Linked DNA regions of Homo sapiens: region 2 is linked to region 1. The links come from fine-mapping of genetic effects on gene expression. A gene starts in region 1. The other region holds a variant in brackets. All regions are shown on one strand. Distances are between the middles of the regions.

Evidence for each region.
Region 2: its variant is fine-mapped to the expression of CLIP4 in whole blood (INTERVAL, PIP above 0.99).

The regions. Positions count from the first base shown.
Region 1 is chr2:29,109,226-29,121,355 of GRCh38, reverse strand. It overlaps CLIP4 (CAP-Gly domain containing linker protein family member 4), which reads right to left and starts at 5,941. Exons shown (of 16, transcript NM_024692.6): 1 at 5,691-5,941. It overlaps LOC105374386 (a long non-coding RNA gene), which reads left to right and starts at 6,612. Exons shown (of 3, transcript XR_007086265.1): 1 at 6,612-6,687. RefSeq lists silencers at 5,291-5,530, 5,721-6,080.
Region 2 is chr2:28,996,438-29,008,567 of GRCh38, reverse strand. TOGARAM2 (TOG array regulator of axonemal microtubules 2) reads right to left here. Exons shown (of 20, transcript NM_199280.4): 3 at 10,315-10,425; 4 at 9,100-9,387; 5 at 5,821-6,032; 6 at 4,886-5,076. Among named protein-coding and RNA genes, the nearest start is that of TOGARAM2, 21 kb to the right of the region's middle. The variant G/C (reference allele first, on the strand shown) is at 6,359.

The sequences.
Region 1 (12,130 bases):
AAAAAGTGTTTCTACTTTATTTGTATGCAACTTAGAATGACTGCCTTCAATAACTGCCTAAAAGTTATTTGACGTCAAATCTGCTGACATTTTCAGTAAGGATCTTTTATGAAAGGGAAAAAATTCCTTTTGGCAAAACTGTTGTTAAAAGGCATACATTGCTTCACACCACCTCTTATACCAGTCGGTAGCACATGTAATCTCTCTAGACAAAGCTCAAAAGGAATATAAAATAGGTGAAAACACTTTAAATGCTGAGCTAATCTAAATGGGTGAAATCCTCCTACTCATGTAACAAACAAGGGCGTATTAACCCTTGTAGATGGATCTTTAACTTCCCATAACACTGGCACAAGTTACATCATTTGTCATCCAATAGCTCATGCCATGTGCTCATCACATGAAGATAATCTACCTTAAAATGTTTCCATTATTTTCTATCCCAGAAAACTTTACTGAAAATTAATCATATCCCTCTTACAAATCTAAGAGTTTACTAAGATTGTTCAACTTAACAAGGTCCGAGGTATGTGAGTTCTATCCTGGCCAAAGATGGAAGCCATGCCTTTTAAAGCACATGGCTTATATTACCTCTTTTTCCCAGAAAACATGAGTGCTTAGAATAAATTTGCTCTAAATTAGACTTTGTACTACACCCTAGCCTACATCTCAGAAATGATGTAGAAAGCAGAGAAACTGCTAGTAAAACCAAACTTATGAAGCTAAAAGCCTTCCAGTTTCTTTTGTATCCGATCTTTACTATCTGAAGTATCATGAATTCCTGTTTTTAAAATGTAAGCAAAACATTATAAAACTAAATGAAAAATGAGTTTAGATTATTTCAGTAGAAAGCACAGAATAAAAATAGGTAATCAATGGCTTGATCTGGTAGTAGACAACACCATACTAGCTACTACTTAATGTGTGCTCTGTTCTACTTAACCAACCCTATATCTAACTCAATTATCCTTACCATCAGTTCCCCACTACAATAAAACAGTCATTTCATTGAGCTCACTGTTGTCTTCCTAACTTGATTCATGTTTTCTTAATACTGGCAGGAACTGGTAAAAAGTAGGAGGCTTTCTTTTTCCTCAAAAATCGTATGCTTATATGGATATAGATGTTATATATTAGGTAACCTAATCCAGTTGTTACTATTTTAAGGTATTCACATTTTCTTGGATGCTAAAATTACTTACCACCAAATACTTAGAAGCATTTTGACATTAACCTTGCCACATAAATAGGAAAATGACAAGTTCATGGAATTAGTGTTATAGAGCAGCGGTGATCTTCCTCAAATACTATCAATTCCAAACAGTAATGAGTATTTATTAAGGAACCACTATATACAAGACACTATTCTAGATGTTTCAGCAAATACAAAAATGAGTTAACAGATGGTCCATGCTTCTTAGGTAGTTTACAATCTATTAAGGTGAATAAAATACCACTAATAACTATAGATTATGAGGCAGAATGGGATCTGCTCCATCACATAAGTACCAGGAACATTTGCAGTTGGAGCTTCTAAGAATCATAAATGGTGAAGAAGGTATCATCTGTGATGAGTCTTGAATGATGAATAGGTATCAATATAAAAGGGGATCCCATTAAAAGAACAGTAGGCTGGAACTTGGGATATGACTAGGAAAACAGTCAGAGGTGAGGCTGTAAGGGCTTTTTAGGGCTGTACTGAGGAGCAAATACCTCATCAAAGACCAAACCACTTACTTTCATGAGCACTGGGAAACTACTGATTTTTTTAAAGAGAGTAACATGATTAAAGCTGTTTTAGGAAAATTAATCTGACTATAATCACGGTTTGGGACTCAGACATGTTTTTATACTCTTAATTCTTCAGCAAAAAGATTCAGTGGATATCTGTCTGAGTCGGTTAAGAGGAGTCACCACATGACTTCCCTTTCAAAGGGTGGAGTCTCCCATTCAAAAAAAAAAATTTTAAGTGATCCCCAGAGCACCTTTCATTTCCTTGTAAACTGTTGAGATCCTCAAAGATACGAACTCTATCGTACACAACTAGCAGTCACCACAGGAGCTAGAATAGTGTGTTACACATATTTAACTAATATTCAAAGCTTAGATTCAAAGTGGAAAGAGGATTCATGCAATCAGATGTAACCAGCTTCATTCTTTTACATATTAGATACTTCAAGTCCAGAAGAAGCTACAATATTACCTGACCAATGCAGTGAACATTCTTTGTATTTTGTCTTTGTTGCGTTTTTCTCTAGTTACATTTCCTTATTTTCGTGAAAAACTTAACATTCTACCTTTTGTCCTCCCAAAGGAAACTATGTACCCCTATAAACTTCCTTATAGTCTCAGATTCATTTCCTAAAAGCAATTCCTGGATCTGAAGACCTACAACACCTGGACTCTTGGTCAAATGTCTAAGTATACTGATCTGAACTGAGTACACACTTTCATTCCAAATCCAACTATGGTTAACTGGTGATAACTGATTATAAAGTAAGCCTCAGGTTAAAAATATATATATATATATTGGCCCTGCCAGGCATGGTGGCTCACACCTGTAATCCCAGCACTTTCGGAGGCCATGGCAGGTGGATCACCCAAGGTCAGGCATTCGAGACCAGCCTGACCAACATGGCAAAACCCCATCTCTACTAAAAATACAAAAAATTCGCTGGGCATGGTGGAGGGCACCTGTAATCCCAGCTACTCAGGAGGCTGAGGCAGAAGAATCGCTTGAACCTGGGAGGCAGAGATTGCGGTAAGCCGAGATCCCGCCACTGCAGTCCAGCCTGGGCAAGAAGAGCGAAACTCCATCTCAAAAAAAAAAAAAAAAAATTGGCACTAATCAACTGTCTACAGAACAGGTGCCTCTGATACTAACAATAGCTAGAATCAAATTCCCCAAACTCTGATTTCTATAGGAATTTCACCCTACTCATCACTCCAAGTTAGCTGTTAGCAAAAGCATCTTACATAACGTGGCTCAAATACCTTGTGATTTTTTTTCCAAGACTCCTTGGTCCATGCTTTAACACAGAGCAGTAATAAATGGGGATGTCCACTAGCATCTTCAGGCTGGTTCAGGACTGTCTGGACCCCATAAAAGGGCCTTACTGAAGCCAGGAGACTTCAGATTTGAGATATGGTTCAAGAGTGTCCTTGAGTTATTCAACTAATAGGAGACCAAAGCTGTGTCTACATTAGCTGGAATCATGAGGCCCTTTCATTCAATTTCCTGTAATACTTTGTTATGAGTCATCATTCTCCTGAGATTCCAATCTCACCACGTAAGTATTTAAAGCATAACTCCAATGATCCTTTTATTTGCTACCTACATAACATCTGTACAATCTACTAAACAGGTATTTACAGTACTGAACACTTAGTTGGCCTTAGAGAGAATTAAAAATTGAAATACCTGCCCTGAAAAAGCTATTTATGCATTTAACAAATATTTATTCAGTTTTTCTTACTAAGTTCTAAGCTATGCAAAGGTAAAGAAACCAGATCTGTCCTTGCCCTCATATAAATTACAGCCTAGTGTTGATTCCTACCAGAAAGTTGAAAGTAGTAAGTGCTATGACCAAGGACAGCTGAGTCCTATGAAAGCACAGATTCAAGAGGGTCAACGAAGGCTTCCTGGAGACTAATAAGTTAAAGCTGTGGCATCTGACCAGCTAACTACTAGCCACATGTGACTATTTAAATTAATTTAAAAATTGGCCAGGTGCAGTGGCTCATGCCTGTAATCCCAACACTTCGGGAGGCCGAGATGGGCAGATCACTTCAGGTCAGGAGTTCGAGACCACCCTGGCCAATATGGTGAAACCCCACAGCAAAAATTAACAGGGTGTGGTAGCAGGCGCCTGTAATCCCAGCTGCTCGAGAGGCTCAGGCAGAACAATCGCTTGAACCTGGGAGGCAGAGATTGCAGTGAGGAGAGATCAGGCCACTGCACTGCAGCCTGGGTGACAGAGCAGAGCGAGACTCCGTCTCAAAAAAAAAAAACAAAAACAAAAAAAAGAGAGAGAGAAAAGGAAAAGAAAAAAAATATTAAAATTTCAGTGCTTCCACTGCTCTAGCCCCATTCAAGTGGTCAAAAGCTATATGTGGCTAGTGCTACCATATTGGGTAATGCAAAAAGAACATGTTTCTGGTCTCCGAAAGCTCTTCTAAACAGCACTGAAGGAAAACAGTGCAGCTCACTCTCCAGATGAGAAAACAATATACAAATGCCTGAAACAAGACACAAATAAAGGTTAACACACTAAAGCAAGCCTATAGCTCCATAGTTCATTATAAATAATTAACAAGGGAGCAGTAAGCCTAAAAGTAACCAGAGTTTGAGGTTTGAACAGGGAGAAAGAGTGAAGTTGATTTTATATAATCTAAAGATCACTAGTTTCAAACACGTGTCAAAATTGGAGTTGTCATAAGCTATGAGAGACAACATAGGTCACTTTTTTAAAAGCCCTTGCTGGTGGGACTGTATGTGGTAAACACAAAATGTCTGAAATGAATCCTACAAATAGAATACCATGGGCTAAATCTTCTACAAAACAGAAGTAAACACATTCCATGCATGGCTAGACTCAATCTTACAGTCCAGATAGACCGTATCAAATGAAAGCATTTAAAAAATGCATCATATTTACGAAAGCAAAATAAGCTGGAACCAGGATGGTTCTCCAACATAAAAACGCAGACCAACTAGACTCCAGCAGGTTCAAGTCTCTGCTTTCCTCCCCAGTTGCTCAATGCCCCGCACCACGTGATCCTGTGCTGTTTAGACGACTCACTTTAAATTGTGCACAAGATTCACAAACAACAAACGTCAAAGTGAAAGTGAAGTACAATTTAAGTGCTGGCGGATGTTCCTGAGGAAGGTGTTTACTGAAACCTTTCAAAGGCGCCCGTTTTATACGATGATGGTGCTACAATATGAACGCAGTCTAGTATCTCAGAACATACAGCAAGTTATTGTCCCATAGGAACATCATCCTCTGATACGTATCAAAACACTGTCTCAGCACAGAGCTGAAAACCAGAGTCTGGATGACGTGAACAGCCTGACATCTAATTCAAAGCTCTACCATCATAAGCAGTGAATGGGATCCTTAAGGATGCGGGCTCAGCTCCAGCGCTCCTTTCAACTTCCCCTCCCAGGTGCGGATGGTTCAGAATTAAGGGATCTCAGGTAGCCAAGGACTGCAAGGACAGCCATTTGGTTTAGCTTTGAAGACCCACTGGCCAAAGGTTTCTCGACAATTTAATGCGCAAGGGGAGTCAAGTGAGAAATGGGAAGAGGCCGCGTTGGAAAGCCACTGCGCGTGCGGGGACTCTCGGGGCAGCCGCGGCTGGCGGTCGTGGCCCAGAGCCCAGCTCCGCCGCCGGGTCCCGCACACCCCGCGCCCCTCAACCTAAAGTTGGGCCGTCCGTCAGCGGCCGCCACGAGGAGTCCCCATCCCCGCCGGGTGGGCCGCTCCGCCCCGAGAAGGCCTCCCCGCGGCCAGCGACACCGGTGCCCACGGGAGGCGGCCGCGGGGCTTCCACAGCCCCCAGCGCCTCTGCGCGACCCTCCCGGGGCCACTGACCTCCCCGCGGGCCCCCAGGGCCGCCCACCCCGGCCCCAACCCCGCCGCCGGCCAGCCCGCGGCCCGGGGGGGCCCCGCGCGCCCCCGGCCCACCTGCCTCCTCCGGGTCCTCTCGGAGCGGCCGGCTGGGGACGCGGGGGCGCGGAGGAAAGGCCGAGAGGCGCGCTCCCGCCGGCGCTGTCTCCCGTGGCCGCCCACGGAGCCTCCCGCCGCGCCGCTCCACACCTCTCCGGGCCCCTCCCGCTGCCTCCCACGCGGGGTGGGCGCGCGCGCAGTGCAGGCGGCCGGGCGGCGCGCAGGCCTCGGCCACGGCCCCGCGCACGCGCTGGGGACTCGGTGGGGACGGAGGAGGCAGCGCGCGCCTGCGCTGGCTCGCCTGGCTCCCGCGCCCCCGCACTCCCCAGCAGTCAGATGATCGGGCGCACGCGGGGCCGCGACCCCGGCTGACAGCGTCTGCGGGGTGTCGCAGTGTTACCTCCCCCGCCGCGAAGCCAGGCGGCCCCGGCACGCCGTGCGTGCCCACCGCCTTCACAGCCCTCAGCCTCGCGGCCTCACGTCTCTAACCTGCGGCGCCCCCACCAGCTGCTGGGGCCGGGGACCTAGTCTTACCCGTCTTGGGCTCCCCAGAGTCCAGCCGAGCGTGGTCAAGAGTACATCCACCAGTTCCCTGCTGGCAGCGCTTGCTGTAAAAGGCCTAATCCGTGCTACACCCACGTTGAGCAATTAGTTCATATCTCCTGCGGCTTTGCTGCCTCTTCACCCACGTTTTCTCCTGACCCCTTCTCCGTCTCCCAAGGACCAGACAGGGTGAAACTGTGCACCTAAAGTCGTGAACTCTGACAGCCTGACTCTCTGTCATCTGGTAACAAGAAAGCGTTACTGGACACATAGTGAGTCCCCTTAATGAGGAGACCTAGTAAGACCATGACCGAAGTTTGAAACATGGAGACAACAGTGTTACATCTATCAGCTGTCTCTGAGGCCTACAGCGGCTGCTTCATAGAGGCTGTACTTCTGTGTTCAGCGCGCACAGTGCCTGGCAGGAACAGATGTTGAATGAACGTCTGTCAGTGTCTCTGCAAGAGCAGAGGTAAGCGCTCACCGCACCCCGGAGCATCTTTTCCTGTTAGAATCATTGATTTCAGGGACTGGAAAAAGCCCCCTTCCCACTTGCCTGAATCCTCCTTACAGTGTCTTCCCACCAAGCAGTGGTTGAACACCTCCACTAACAAGGAACTCATTACCTTTTAAGGCAGCCATTTAATCTTTGATCAGCCTTTTGGAAATTTTCTACCTTAGGAGCTAAAATCCAGCTCCCTGCATCTCTCCCTCACTGGATTTTGTTTCTGCCCTGGGGACTCTTAAGTCTGACTCCAATTCATCCAAGACACACATTACCTGTCCCTTAGGCTACTCCTGATATGACCTGGTCACAATCCCACTCACCAGCATGTTGAGGGATTCTCTTGGATGCATTCCAGCTTGTCCAGAGCTCTCTTAAATGTGATTATCAGGAATGAGTGGGTGGCCTGCCAAGTGCGGAGAGGAAAGAGACTGCCACCTCTTCTTAGGTCCTATGCTTAACAACATTCACCATATCAAAATAGTTGCTAGGAGCAGTCACATCACATTGTTGAATCGGGTGGAGCACACTTGACTAAAACCCACAATATTTGAATACATGACCATCCCTGACCCTGGTCAGCTGCCAGTTTCTCTGTCTCTGCAGGCTCAGCATCTGCGAGTGCTCTCAGAGATAATGTGACACGGATACTTCCTCCTCCCTCTGAAGAGTCCACCTCCCTTTCCCTGCTTTCATCATACCCTCTTCTTGTCTGACCCACCCATCTCTTTAGCTGGTTAAAAGAAGGAAGGCAATCTGCCCTTGGTTGGCTTCAAGCACCTATAAATGAGGCCAATTGTCATTGAACCACAGAAAGTCATAAAGATCTGTGTGTAACAGAGTAGCTATTGGTGAAGTTTCCAAACGTATACAGTTCACTTTTATTGCTGATTTAAATTATCCATCTGAAATACCACTATTAGTAGGTGACAAGGCATGGCTAGCTCAGTTGTTCTTAGTTATAATAAAGATCTCTGTTAGAACCAGCCAGGCCACTGGCTTTATCTGCTACACCCAAACACTGTATGATACATAGGCAAATTCCCAGGATACCAAGCCACCAGAGTCTCCCACTCACTTAGTTGCCTTTGTTCAAAAATCTGACGTTACTTCTTTATACCATCATCAAGAATGCAAGTGCTCGTTGGAGTCATGCTTCCTAGAATACCTCGTGACATACAAGCTTTAGAACCAGGTATTGCCCAGTTAACCAGAGTGAGACTGGACAATGATATGTGGCCAGAACTTGGAACTTGAACTATTCATTGGGGTGGGAAGGCACATGGGGATGTGGACCAACTGTAGCTGCTGAGATTCAATTCTATCTGGAGACACAAAGTTCCTGAAAAGTATAGCAATAATCCACAGCGTCAGGAGGTGATCAACTTACTGGTCAACATCACAGTGTGGAGAAAGGGCATTACTCACTGACCACTGTAAGGCACTTGACCTATGGAAATCTTGTCTTCACTTTACAAATGAAGAAGCAGACTCTGGGAGGCTGCGTGACTTGCTCCATGTAGCCAGGGGCAGAAATAAGATTCAAACCTAAGTCTGTCTGATCTGAAGGCCTATGTTGATTCACTACTTTGCTAACCTACACAGGCTGTCTTTGGGGGCATTAAAGACCCAGAATGGCTGCATAGAGCAGCATTCAGGAATTCAGACACTCGGCAGCAGGAAGATCTGTCAGCAGCTCTCAGGACCCCGACCATGATAAAAGGGTTAGAGGAAATAGCAAAAGAAGACAAGGTCACTGCTTTTACATGGACTGGATATGGGATGGAATATCATCAGTTTCTAATTTGTGAGTGTATAGGGGGCCTAGGCCCTTAGGACCATGAGAGACACCCAACTGTCAGAATTGGGGCACCAGATTGGAGTTCAACTAGCAGAAGTGCTTAAATGCAAAAGATCAGAGCACTGGGCAGAGCCCCTAATATCTTCCTGTCTGTGATGTTTACAGGTGTGATCATCAGCATAAAAAGCCCAACAGAATCAACAAAGTATTAGAAGTAATGTTAGCTCAGCAAGGTTGCCAAGTACAAGATCAGTTTCTAAAAATCAATAGTTTTGTCTACATCAGCAGTAAGCAACTGGGAAATGTAACAGACAATAAGAAACCATTCACAATAACAATAAAGTTTAACAAACTCTAAAGCATAATATCCAGGAATTAACCCAACAACTTGCAAAAACTTTAAGGAGAAAATTTTAAAACTCTATTTAAGGACATAAAATATTGAATAAGTGGAGAGATACAGCATGGATAGGATGACTTTACATTGTAAAAGTATCCATTTAGTCTCCAAAGTAAATGTTATGGCAACCAAAATTCCAGCAGAAACTAAATTTTTAGGGAACTCAACAAACTTACAAAATATATAAGGAGAAATAAATTTTAAACAGTTAAGTCAATTATAAAAACCAGAGCAGACCTGCCATGCCAGATATTATGTCATTGCCACATAGTAATAAAAATATTATGGTACTGGTATAGGAACACATAGAGCAAATAGGAAACAGAATGAAGAACTCAGGAGCAGACCCACGTATAAATGCTACCTCCATTTACACAAAGGTGGTACCACAGATCAATGAGAAAAATATAAATTATTTAGAAGACGGCATTCGGGAAACTGGCTTTAATTTATCAAGGAAAAATAAAGTTGAGAGCCCCATGTTCTGCCATATACAAAGGTGAACTCCAGATAAATGGCAGACCTACATATGATACAAAAGAAAATGCAGGAGACTATCTCTATAATGTGGGTTAGGAATTTACTTCATAAAACAGGTTTGCAAAAGCACAATCCTTGAAGCAAAAAAAAATTGTATGACTTGACTGCATCACAATTAAGGGTTCTGTTCAGTTAAGAATACCATAGAAAAAATTAACAGATGGCTGACAAATTGGAAGAAAACATGTGCTATGTTCAAAAGCAACTAGGGATTAATATCTGAAATGCATGAGGAACTTTTCACAAATCAAAAGGAAGTCAATATAAAATATTTTAAAGGCCAATATAAAAATGAGAAAAGTATAAGAATAGACAATTCACAGAAGGAAAAGCCAGAATGGCAAGCAAGCATTAAAGAGATGCTCAACCCCACTTGTAATCAGAGTGGGAATATAAAGAGTGTGACCCCATAGCCACCAATATGCTGGTCTATGTTTTAAAACCCGCTCCCCAGGGAAGGAAAAGTCCTAACGTACAGTGTTTGCCAATTTCCATGGTGCAAATACTCTGAGCACTGCCAGTTTCCAGCTACCAGTGTAGCTTGAGGTCACTGAACAAGAAGTTGGGAAGAAATGTGCTTTATCAGCTCTCATGAACTGTTTTCAACACACCACTGCTTCACCCACCAGCATGGCAGAAATCAGAAAGATAATCCCAAATATTGGCAAAGATCTGGGGAAAGATGCACTGCTGATGGAAATTTAAACTGGTAAATATATTCTGCAGATCAACCTGGCAGTGCTTAGTGAAAAAAATTAGCAGTATGCTTTATGACTCAGCAGTCACCCTCCTGGATATGCCTCAGAGAAACCCTTACAGTGGTTCTATAAGCACCTTGTTCATGCAGTTTCCAGGAAGTCAGTTTCTCATTCACTAGGTGACCTTATTCAGTCTATGGCTTTAAATATTGACCAGGCGTGGTGGCTCACACCTGTAATCCCAGCACTTTCAGTGGCCGAGGAAGGATCACTTGAGGCCAGGGGTTCAAGACCAACCTGGCCAACATGGTAAAACCTGGTCTCTGCTAAAAATACAAAAATTAGCCAGGCATGGTGGCGTGCACCTGTGATCTCAGCTTCTTGGGAGGCTGAGGCAGGAGAATTGCTGGAACCTGGGAGGTGGAGGTTGCAGTGAGCTGAGAGCATGCCACTGCACTCCAGCCTAGGGGACAGAGTGAGACTCCATCTCAAATAATAATAATAAATAAACAAATATCATCTCTGTTTTCCTGATTTCCAAATTTCTATCTCCAGCCCTGAACCTCAGATGTATATCCAACTGCCTACTCAACATCCATTCTACAGCATACATTACATATCACAAATAGAACATGTTCAAAATGGAACCCTTCCCCATAACCTTCCCTATGTCAGTAAATGGCAACTCTATTCTTCTTTTTGCTCACTGGAGTCATCCTTTCTTCCTATCATATTTTTGGATTCTCCAAACCAAACTCCCTGTCTTCATTCTTCAAAAAGTTTATGATATCATTTATTAAGTAAATTCACATACCATAGAAATCCTTACAAATCAGTAGCCACTGGAGACCCCAGGAACCTCCTACTGCTTCTACCTGGGCTTGCCCTCCTCTAATCCATCTCCTTTGTCAAGGTTGCAGGTGGGGACTGCCTGCTGAAGTAGACCACAAACTGAAGAGGACTCCATTGAGCCGCACGAGACTTATTATCTGAATGGGGCTTCTCATTCCTGGTTGTGCATTAGAATCACCTGGATATCTTTTGCAAAATAAACCCTTAAAGACCTCCTCAGATATTTCCATTCAGTTGATCTAGTTTAGTTTCATGCTATTCTATGTTTATTCTTTTTTTATTTTTTTGAGACAGAATCTTGTTCTGTCACCCAGGCTGGAATGCAGTGGCGCAATCTCAGCTCACTGCAACCTCCACCTCCTCGGTTCAAGCGATTCTCCTGCCTCAGCCTACCGAGTAGCTGGGATTACTGATGCACACCACCATGGCTGGCTAATTTTTGTATTTTTAGTAGAGACGGGGTTTCGCTATGACGGCCAGGCTGGTCTTGAACTATTGACCTCAACTGATCCACCCACCTCAGCCTCCCAAACTGCTGGATTACAGGCATGAGCTGTCATGCCGGCCCTATTCTATAAATTTATTTTCCCTTTTCTTAGCCCTAGTTCCTGAGAAGACACTAACAAAGGAATTTGCATGTTCCTACATGGGGCACTGCTCCCCAGACCCTCCAGTTGCTGCCACTCTCAGACACCACATGATGCAAAGTCTTCTTTATAATTACAGCTAGATTGGAGGCATATGTTCTAGTGCTCTATAACTCTGTAGGATAACTATAGTTAACAATAATATATTATATGGTTTCAAATAGCTACAAGGAGGATATTGAATGTTCTCAACACAAAGAAACAAATGTTTGAGATGATGGATGTGCTAATGACTGTGATCTGATCACTATACATTATATGTGTTGCAACATCACTGTGTACCTCATGAATATATGCAATTATGATGTATTTTTATTTTTTAAAAAAAATTGAAGTCTTCTTAAAGCCTACATAAAGGAAGACGGAACAAAAGGAATGTCACATGGCATTAGGATGAAAATTGCCACTGTGGCACAAAAGCTAAGTTTCGGGTACCAGCCACCCCCCAAATTTTTGGCCAATAAGACGCCTC
Region 2 (12,130 bases), 110 kb after region 1:
GAAGAATTACTAGAACCAGGGAGGCAGAGGTTACAATAAGCAGAGATCGTGCCACTGCACTCCAGCCTGGGTAACAGAGCAAGACTCCATCTCAAAAAAATATATATATTTTTAATTGGCTGGGTGCAGTGGCTCACGCCTGTAATCCCAGCACTTTGGGAAGCCAAAGTGGGCAGATCACCTAAGGTCAGGAGTTCAAGACCAGCCTAACCAATGTGATGAAACTGCAGCTCTACTAAAATTACAAAATGTAGCCAGGCATGGTGGCATGCTCCTGTAGTCTCAGCTACTCGGGAGGCTGCGACAGAAGAATTGCTTGAACCCAGGAGGCAGAGGTTGCAGTGAGCCAAGATCGTGCCACTGCACTCCAGCCTGGGTGACAGAGTGAGACTCCATCTCAAAAAATAATAACAATAAAAAATAAAAAACAAATAAATAAAACAAAATAAATAAACAAAATAAATTTAAATAATCAAGATTTGCTTATTTTGTTTAATGGAAGGGAGGGGCTGAGGCAGTCCCTGGGCTGGATGCCTGTGGACAATGCAGAGAAGACCACTTCCCCTCCTTGCCGCCCTTTAAAGGGAGAGTAGGTAGACATGGAACAGTGGAGATGAAATGAATGGGTGGGGAAAGGGGTGAGAGGCTGTTGGGGTTGCAGAGATGGACGAGGGGAAGCACCATGTCCCCTCGTAAATGGATGGATGGATGAGTGAAATGGTAATAGGTCCTCAGGGTCTGGAGGGGTAAGAAGGCCCCACAGAACAAGCACTGGGGGACAGCGGGGAGGAACTGTGGGGTCGTGGGCTGGATGGACCCTGATTGTCAGGCCAAGGAGACTCAGCATTATGCGCCTGGGTCCTTGACACAAAGGACCCGCCATTCATTCAATCAGGAATGTCAATACAGGCAAAGGGCCTGCAAGAGGTGTGCAAGGTGGCGGGGGAAGCAGGAAAATGAAAGATGGGGATGGAGCGCACAGGGCTGCAAGGATACTGGCTAGGCACTATTAGGGGAGGTCAAGAAGGAAGCGGAAGTACAAACCAAGAGGGAAAGGCAGGGGCAAGAAAGGGGTGGAGCTTTCATGGCTGTTAAGAAAGACTTGGGGGCTATGGAAATGTGTTGGAGCAGGAGGCACTAGGAGCAAGGGTCAAAGATGACACTGAGACTTGAAGGCCAAGAAGAAGGTCTGCACCTTGACAGCAATGAGGAGGTCTTGGGAGGGGGTGGTTTGGGGAAACACGAGGTGGTCCTTGTTGCCATGATGGTGGCACAACCTCCCTGTCTCTCCCTCTGGTGCTGGATCACATCAGCCAGGAGAAACTGGAGATGCCCAACAGAAAGATGGAAACCCGGAGCCTGACCTGTGGATGGTTCCAGGGCTAGAGCAGGAGATGTGAACTCACCCACATTCCACCATCTGGAAGACTTGGGCACACATAAGGGCCCCAGGAGAAAACAGGAGATGGGGGCAAACAGTCCTGGAACAATTTTGGGAATGGCAGAACTTAGAAATGGAAGAGGGCACACAGGAAGCTGCCTGGAAGGTCGAGAAGCAGGTATAAAGTCAGGATGCAGAAAAAGAAGAAAAATTCAAGGGCCATCCATGGTTCAAATGATGCAAAAAAGTCAAGAGTAAAGAGATAAGAGGAAAGGCCACAGGTCTGGGGCCAGTGAGTCATGAGAGGCACAGATAAGGCTGCTCCGAGGGGAGGAAGAGGCCAGCGTCTGAGTGGGAAAGGGGAGGACGTGTGCAATGGTGAGGAGGCGGAGGTCAGTGGAGCAAGCTGCTGTCTGAGGAGGCTGACGGTGAAAACTGAATAGAGAACTCGAATCCAGGAGCAGGTACATGGACGGGTCTCTATAACCCACAGGGTCGGAGAAAGACATGAATATGTGTGTGCACAGAGGGAAGGCACCAGGGAGATGGAGGGAATGAGGAAGTGTGAGAAAAATGGAAGAATCCAAGTCATCAGGCCCCAAGAAACGGGAGGGAAGCAGTCACAGCAGGAACTGGATTGTGACTCTACTGAAGGAGCCAGGCCCATAGGCCCTGAGCACACGCACACACACTCCACACACATGCACTCACACATACACATGCACTCACACACAGATACACATGCACACACATGCACACACACAGATACACATGAACACACATGCACTCACACACACGCACTCACACACATACACATGCACACACATGCACTCACACATACACACATACACACACATGCACACACTCCACACACAGGCACTCACACACACACATGCACACATACATGCACACATATACACTCCACACACATGCACACACACTCCACAAATGGCTTCACACACAGTCACACACACAAACACATGCACTCACACACATGCACACACATGTGGTCACACATGCTCACACATGTACTTACGCACATGCATGCTCTCACACACATGCACACACATATGCACTCCACACACATGCACCCCACACACACACACGTGCTCTCACACATACACATACACACACACTCCACACATGCACTCACATACATATGGTCTCACACACACACGCACACATACACACCCTACACATGCACTCATACGGTCTCACACACAAATACACATATGCACACATACCCCACACACACACTCCACACACATGCACTTACACACACGCACTCACACACATACACATGCACTCACAACATGCACTGACACATATGCACACACATGCACTGACACATACACATGCACACACATGCACTCACACACATGCACTCATACACATGCACACACAGATACTCCACACATGTACTCACACACACACATACACACATATATGTGCTCACACACATGCACACATGCACTCACACATGCACGCACTCCACACATGCACTCACATGCATGCTCACACATGCATGCCCTCACACACATACACACATGCACACACACTCCACACATGCACTCACATGCATGCTCACACATGCATGCCCTCACACACATACACACATGCACACACACTCCACACACATGAACACACACCACACATGGCTTCACACACGTAGTTACACAAACACATGCACTCACACACATGCACACATGCACACACATGCAGTCACACATGCTCTCACATACATGCACTCACGCACATGCATGCTCTCACACACGCACACACACACTCCACATACATGCACCCACATACATGCACGTTCTCACACATACGCTCCACACATGCACACACACGGTCTCACACACACATGCACACATACCCCACACACACACATGCACACACACACATATGCACACACACTCCACACACATGCACTCACACACATGGTCCCACACACATATACACACATGCACACATACCCACACACATGCACACACACACTGCACACATATGCCCTTACACATGCACTCACACACAACATGCACTCACACACATACACATGCACACACACCCATACACATGCACTCACAACATGCACTCACACATACACATGCACACACATGCACTCACACACATACACATGCACACACATGCACTCACATACATGCACTCACACATACACATGCACACACATGCACTCACACACATACACACATGCACTCACACACATACACATGCACACACATGCACACACATGCACTCACACACGTACACATGCACACACATGCACTCACACATGTACACATACACTCCACACACATGCACACACAACTCCACACAGATGCACTCATACACATACATGCACACACATACTCCACACATGCACTCAGACACACTCAGACACATACTCTTGCACTCATGCACACACACACTCAGACACACACACACATGCATGCACTCACACATATACACATACTCAGACACACACACTCTTGTACTCACATACATGCATATACTCACATATACATGCACACATACACACTCATACACATACACTCACACATACCTGCAGGCACTCATACATGTGTGCACACACAAAGACACTCAGACACACTCACTCTCACACACACGTGCTCTGACATCACTCTGGACTGACCACGGGGATGTTGCTGGCCATCTAGAGCACTGTCTTACTTACAAGCCATAACCCGATTTATGCCAACACAAAGATCCTCTTCCCCACTTGTTTGTGGGATATGAAGACCCCTTTTCAAGTCCAAAAGTTTGTGGACTGTCCCCCATACACATGATACTGGTTGTATTTTTAGTATCCATCAATTAAGAAAATATTTAATTACAAAGAGCTGCCATGAACTCAATCATGCTTTAAAATAGTGTTTTATTCATAGCCGGGCACGGTGTCTCACACCTATAATCCCAGCACTTTGGGAGGCCAAGGAGGGCAGATCACCTGAGGTCAGGAGTTTCAAGACCAGCCTGGCCAACATGCTGAAACCCGTCTCTACTAAAAATACAAAAATTAGCAGGGCATGGTGGTGGGTGCCTGTAATCCCAGCTACTCAGGAGAATCGCTTGAACCCGGGAGGCGGAGGTTGCAGTGAGTTGAGATCACACCACTGCACTCCAGCCTGGGCGACAGAGTGAGACTCCATCTCAAAATTATATATATGAGATAAAATAATTAGTGTTTTATTCATTACTCCGGCAACCTCATCCACTAAGGCACTGGGAGAAGACAGAGGCTGGAGACATTGTTCGTGATGCCATTGACCCAGCCTGCCGGAGCCAAGAGGCAGAGAAGCCCCGGCAACCATGCTGGGACCTCCCTAGGTCTGTGGCTCATGGGTGGAGCCCCCAGCCCTTTCCCTGCCTGGTGTCCCAAGAACTCTGCCACAGCATGGAGGGTCAGCCACAAGGAGCCCCAGTGGATCTCAGGGGGACAGAGGGAGAGAAGTCAGCAAGGAAGGTTTGACTTGGAGCTCTTACCGCGTGCGTGGGGCCCTCAGGCCTGTGAGGACTCCCTGGCCTGGAGGTAACGGGCTGGGAAGGGAGCCAGGCACACGGGAGGGGGTCGCTGCAACCGTCCTGGCCTTTGGGATGGGTGGGATCACGATGGCGCCCAGGGACTTCTGCATCTTCTCATCATTGCAGTGCAGGTATTGCCAGGAGATCTGCGCCTGGGAGCAGAGGCGGGACAGGGGTCTGGCCTATGGCAACATCCCATGGTGAATGCTCACCTCCAGGCACCTCACACAGTGTGGGACCTGCTGTCTCTTTTCAGCCACACCACCCTGGGACCCCCAGAAGCCTGACTGCTTCCTTACCACTCCTGGTGAGGAGACTGGCAAGCCCTTTTGTGACTATTATTATTCGTTTTTCTGTTCTCATTTCAGAAAAATCCTAGAACATCAGAGCTGGAAGGACCTTCAAACACATCTGGGCCAAACCTCTATTTTCATAGATGTGCAAACTGGGGCCCAAAGAGGGGTGTGACTTGCACAAGGTCACACAGCCAGTGAGGGGCAAACAGAAACCAAGGCCCAAATCTGAGTCCTAGCCCAGCATTCTTTGCCACACTCTTGCTTAAAATGGAGAGGGCCAGAAAGCAGGAGGAATTCTGGAACATTTAGACCAGAGAAGGCCTAGGGGACCACCAGTTCTAGGACAAAGGTCATGCAGCCTCTGGCACAGCCACCCAGAGCCCCCAGGCCAGCTATGGAGGTTTGAGATGCTGGGGGAGGTGGTGAAATGAGCACCTTGAGCCTCTCCCAGTGCTGTCCCTATCCTCACTGCAGACCTCAAGACACCTCCAGGGATGCTCAGGGCATGGAGTCAGGGGTTGGTGGAGGCTAGAAAGAAAGGCAGGAGGAAGGGAGGGCAAGAAGCTGAGGACCAGACTCACAGCAGTCGAACCACCTTACCTCCTGAGCACCGGGTCTCAACTCGTGAGGACCCGGAATGCTCCCCGGTAGGTCCAGGCCCTTCTCTTTGACTCCGCTGGCCTCAGGGGTGGTAGGGATGCTCTGGATGAGAGGCATCGGCCTGGGCACCCTCAGCAGCCTCTGAGAGGTGGCTCGGGGGATGGTGCTGTGCAGGGGAACTCCTTGGGGGCCTCCCCCTGGATCCAGAGAGGCTGTACAGGGATGGGGATGGGAAATCAGTTAGTCCCAGAAGAACAGGGAGTGGAAGGTGGATTCAGACCCCAGCAACGGGGCCTTCTGCCCTGGGAAGGACTGGGATGGCGAGGAGAGAGATCAGATCTGTCCCCAACCCCACCACTGGTAGACTGAGCAAGCAGCCACTTCTGAGTGTCTGTGCCATTCCAGAAAGGGCCAATCCAAGTTACCTGTTTAGAATTCAGAGGCAGCGTGGGAAGGAAGGGAAATAAAAGCAGTGCCAGATCAGGAGGAAGCATGGCAGGTCCTGGCCGTGGGTAGAAGCTATGTGACCTCGAGCAAG[G/C]CACTGTCTCTCTGAACCCCATTACACTTCTGTGAAATGGGGTGATTCAATAACATCACTTATATAAGATGCCAGGCAAGTACCTGCCACTGTTTCCCCTTCCTTTTCGGCTGGTGATGTGGGGCGTAGCTGTTTTGACACAGCTAACATAGTCTAAGACAGACCGCCACACTTCCAGCTCCCCTCTGAATGCTTTAGGTGCCCAACAGACATCTTCAGCGCCCTGTGCCCCACCCCATCTCACCCCACAGCCATGCCTCAGGCAAAGGCACAGGGCAAGAAGCACTGGGTTGGGCCAAGAGCTCAGGGTTATCTTTGTAAATATCAGTGATGAGGAATAAAAAAAAAAAAAAGACTAGCATTTTAACTTTCATTCTGGCCTCAACAAAACCACTGCATCAAAACAGCCAAGTCAGGCCAGGCGCAGTGGCTCACGCCTGTAATCCCACACACTTTGGGAGGCCGAGAACGGGAGGATCACTGGAGGTCAGAAGTTCAAGACCAGCCTGGCCAACATGGTGAAACCCCATCTCTACTAAAAATTAGCCGGGCGTGGTGGCACATGCCTGTAGTCCCAGCTACCGGGGAGGCTGAGGCAGGAGAATCGCTTGAACCTGGGAGGTGGAGGTTGCGGTGAGCCGAGATCGCACCACTGCACTCTAGACTGGGCAACAGAGCAAGACTCGGTCTCAAAAAAAAAAAAAAGATTAGCTGGGCCTAGTGGTGGTTGTCTGTAATCCCAGCAACTCAGGAGACTGAGGCAGGAGAATCACTTGAACCCAGAGGTTGCAGTGAGCCAAAATCGCACCACTGCACTCCAGCCTGGGTGACAGAGCGAGACTCTGTTCCAGAAAAAAAAAATTAAAAAAAAATAAACCAGCCAAGTCAAAATATCATCTCTGTTCCTGCACACTCGCTCCCCTCCTGGCTTCCGGTGCTGGTTCTGTTCTGTCTTGGAGCACTGTTGTGTTGTGGTTAGCCTGTGGGGAGCTGAAAGGATGGAAAAGAAGGGGTGTGGTCAAGTGGAGACTGTGCCACTTGCCGGGCCACCTTGAGCCCCAGCTGGGTCAGGGCACAGAGGAGTCAACTCAGCCTCAATGCAGGGGCCAGAGCAGCCCCAGCACTGCCCGGGGGCCAGAGATCCCCGGCCCTCCATGCTTGCTGAGGGGCCTGATAAGTCTATAGGTCACTGCCCATCAGAACATTAGGTAGAACAACTCCATTCTTTTTTTCCCTATGCTGGAACTTTGTAAAAAAGAAATGAAATATCTAGAAAAGGGCTTCAAGCCCCTAAGGGAGAGAGTTGTTGGTCTGGCAGCTCTAGGAGTTGTACCTACTGGAAGTTCTAAGGAAGCTTCTCGGGCATTCCAACCCCACCTTCTGCCTCCATAATGTGCAGCCAGGACAATTCCTCCCAGAGGCTCCCTGGCATTGTCCTGGGCTCCCCGGGAGCTGGAGACACCCCACGGCTCCAGGGAGAGGCTCAGCAGGTGGAGCAGTCTGCACAGGGGAGGGGAAGAACAGCCAACCACAACCCCAGGCTTGACGGCAGCAACCACGTGCCTCTTGAGAGCACTTCCCCTTTCTTCCTAAGACCTCAAGACTTCTTATTGCTCTTGTTACCCAAGAGTTCATTCCGCTGAAAAGAGCCCGTATGATTCACCCAGAAGAGGAGAGAAGGAAGGAAAATAGTAACAATGTATTAAGTTCTTCCCATATGCCAGGTGTTGAGAATTCTGTGTACAAGTTTTCATTAAACCCCCACAGTAACACAGAAGTATTATTAATAGTGTCCCCATTCCACAGAGGAGGAAATCGAGGCCTGAAATGTTACCGACCTGCCCAAGGCCCCAGAGCCAGTGAGTATCGGGGCTAAGATTTGAACTTGGCTTGTCCACCACACAGATGAGAGACAGTATAAAGTGCCTGCTGTTGAATCCCTTGTTCATCTGCTCAACAAACGTTTCTTGAGAGCCTCCTAGCTGCCAAGCGACTGTGCCTCACACCGAGATCTCAGTCACTGCCCTCTTGGAGCTGACAATTACATGCAAGATTCAGGTTTTAAATAGTCACAAAAGTAAAAATATAAATGCAAACCATGAAAAGAACTGAAGGAAAAAAATGATAGGGCATTATTGGAGAGCATCCTAAGGGGCAAACTCACATTGGGGAGTCAAGGAGGCCTCTTTGAGGAGGGCTTTGAAGCCAAGAAGGGAGGCTGGGTGGGGATTTTCTGAGTGGGAAACGGAGGAGGGGTGGGGGAGGAGCAGTGGCTCTAAACCTCAGGCAGGAAAGAGCCCACAAGCCCCAGGCCCTGGACAGCAGAGACCGAAGGCAGAGAGTGACACAGTTGGGGTGAGGCCAGGGCCAGAAGGTCTTGTGCATAAGGGAACATTTGGGATCTTAGTCTAAGCACATCCAAAACCTACTGGCTGATTTTGAGCATAGTTGGTGGAAATGGGAAGAACATTTGCTTAAAAGGATCCTTCTGGAGCAAGACTAGAAGGCGCAAGGGTGGGAATGAAGAGGCCAGTCGGGAAGCACTGCAGAGCCCGGGAGGGAGGCTCAGCTCCAAGGAGGTCGCTGAAGCCATAGAGAAGGTACCTGGTATGTACCCACCGATCACCCCCAGGGCATCCCAGCATGCCACCTGGAAGCCTGCTGACCCTCACAGCCCTGGAGGCCTGCGGCCCTTGACCTGGAAGTGGGTGGGTGAGGGGTGGGCAGGGGCCAGTGCTCACCTCGGGAAGACGCTGCCAAGCCCTCTGAGAGCCTCCTTTTCTTGAGCTTGTCCTTAATCTGGATGGTGTCCCTGGCCACGCTGTTGGCCTCTGACTCCGGAGAAGGGAGGAGCACCAGGGGCTGGTCCCCCAAAGACAAGGCCCTGAGGTTCCTGGGGTGACCATTCCTTGCCTGCCAGCCCTTGGAAGGGGTGTCCAGCTTGAGGCCACCCAGCTGTCCGAGTCCACGCAGGAGCTGTGACGGTTCCTCGTTGTTCAGCAGGGCTCTTGGCTCAGGCTGGAGAGAACCTGAGGGGGACAGAGGTGTGAATGGCTTGGCACGCAGTACCCAGGGTGGCACCAGGCACCAGCAAGCTCCTTGACATTGCTTCCTTCTAACAGGCAGCCACTTGCCTGGTGAAACCCAGTCATTTAATGTTTCAGTCACTCCTGGGGACGAGTCATTCATTCGACAGTGTCTCTGAAGCACCTAATCTTCACAAGACCCATGCCACAAGGTGCTCAGGACAAAAGGGGGAATCCACAGGCAGTCCTATGGCAGCACAGACAAGAGGCCGTGAATCATAGGGAAGGTCGTCTGCCCAGGGACCACCATCCACCAATCTCCAGGGTCCAACAAAGTCATCAGATCCCCGAGCACTGACCTATGCCAAGCACAGACTACAAGGAGGAACTCAGGCATCTCAGAGCAAATCACCCCCACCCCCAGCAGACACACCAGATGGGAGAGAAACAAAATACTCTGCACATTTAGAGGAGGTAAGAGGTTCTAGAAGACCTTCAGGAAGTGGTGCTCTTCACCTGGGCCCTGGGGGAGCATTCAGACAGGTGGGCTCTCAGAAGCTTGGCCACAACCCAGCCCCTCCAGAGACCCAGGCTGCAGATGCTGGACAAGTGGCAGAGACGCTGAGTGGACATCTTGAGAGGGGCCCCCTCCCCATTGCCAACCTGGGTGCTGAGTGCACTCCCAGGTCCAGGCGCATGCAGAGAGCCCTGCTCCCTATTCCTGCGGGTCCCCCTCTGCACACCTCCAACCTCTGAGGCACAGGATCAAAAGAACCTGCCTTTGAAAGAATCAAAGGGTATTTTCAGCAGGAGCCACAGGAAAAATAACACCTGCTGGTAGCTCGAGAACACAGCCGGCATCTACCACACTCACTCCCCGCTCCAGGATGAGGCCAGGGGCCCTGACCAGGTGAGGTCTTCCCATCTCACCTTCTCCATGAGGCAGACTGGAGTTGATGCTTCCAGGCGGGAGCACCCGGGGCCCAGCACTGGTCCGAGGGATGCTCCCGCAGTACACGGCCACGGGGACCAGGACCTTGGCTGGAGACAGAAGCACAGGAGAGCAGCACCTGAGAGTCCTCCAAGGCCAAGACTGGGAGCAAACCAAGAACACCCGGCCGTAACCCTGAGCACTCCACCCCGCAGGGTCCCTGCCCAAAAAACCAAGGCATGTGGTGGCCCCACCCCCAACACCAGAGCCTGGCAGGGCCAGGCAGGGTGCCTGTGATCTCCACCAAATCCCTCCAACCCCGCTTGCCCCAGCCTCTCAGCCTGGCTGCCTCCTCCCTCCTCGCATCCTGGCTTTGTTCCAAACCCCCCTCCATGCCTTTTCATCTCCTTCATGGGCACCCCTCTTCCATCACCCAACATCATTGACCGATGGAGTGCCCATCCCCAACCTCTGTCCACCAGCTGCTCTCCCCAGGACACTTCCTCACTGCCACACCCTGCAGATAATCCCCTACCCTACGGCTTCCGCCCTGACCAATCCCACCCGTTACAGAGCATCCAATTACCTTGCCAATTCCTTTTTGGAAGTCCCCAGGCACCTCATCAGCATGTCCTACACTGATCTTCCCTCTTCTCTCCTAACGTCCCTCGGCTCAGCAAAAGACACCCTCTATCCGCGACACAGAGATTTGTGAACACTCTCTGTGCAGTGAGACAGTAGTGGGCAAGGCTGACTCAGTCCTCAGTGAGACTTGAAGTCTGGCGGAGAACACAATGATTAAGAAGCAATGACAGTGCGGGGCCTGGGAGCCCGGCCAGAGATGGGGACAGAAAAAGCTTCCCAGAGGGAGGGACCACTGAGCTGAGAGCATACAGGGAGCAGGAGTCAGGAAAGAGGAGGGGAAGTTCAGCTAAGGCATGCGCTCCTTTAAGAAGCCTTCCATCTTTTGCCAGTTTTTAAAGCAGATTCTCTGTTTTTGTTACTGAGTTGTTTGAGTTCCTTATATATTCTGGTTATTAATCCTTTGTCGGATGGATAGTTTGCAAATATTTTCTCCTATTCTTCACTCTATTGACTGTTTCCTTGTGTCTACAGAAGCTTTTTAACTTGATGGAATCCCATTTGTCTATTTTTGCTTTTGTTGCCTGTGCTTTTGAGGTCACTGCTGGATGAATATCCAACAGAAAGTAAATCAGTACATTGAAGAGCTATCTGCACTCTCATGTTTATTACATTATTCACAATAGCCAAGACATGGAATCAGCCTAAGTGTCCATCAATGGATGAATGGATAAAGAAAATGTGGCACATATACACAATGGGATACTATTAGGCCATAAAAAAGAATAAAAAAAGAATCAAATCCTGCCACTTGCAGCAACATGGATGGAACTGGAGGTCATTATCTTTTTTTTTTTTTTTTTTTTTTTTTGAGATGGAGTCTCAGTGGTGCGATCTCGGCTCACTGCAACCTCCGCCTCCTGGGTTCAAGTGATTCTCCTGCCTCAGCTCCCCCTAGTAGCTGGGATTACAGGCACCTGCCACCATGCCCAGCTAATTTTTTTGTATTTTCATAGAGACAGGGTTTCACCATGTTGCCCAGGCTGGTCTCGAAATCCTGAGCTCATGCAATCTGCCCGCCTCTGCCTCCCAAAGTGCTAGGATTACAGATGTGAGCCACCACTCCCAGCCTGGCAGTCATTATCTTAAGTGAAGTAAGCCAGGCACAGAGAGACAAATTCTACTTGTTTTCATTCATATATGGGAGCTTAAAAAGTCAGTCTCACAGAGGCA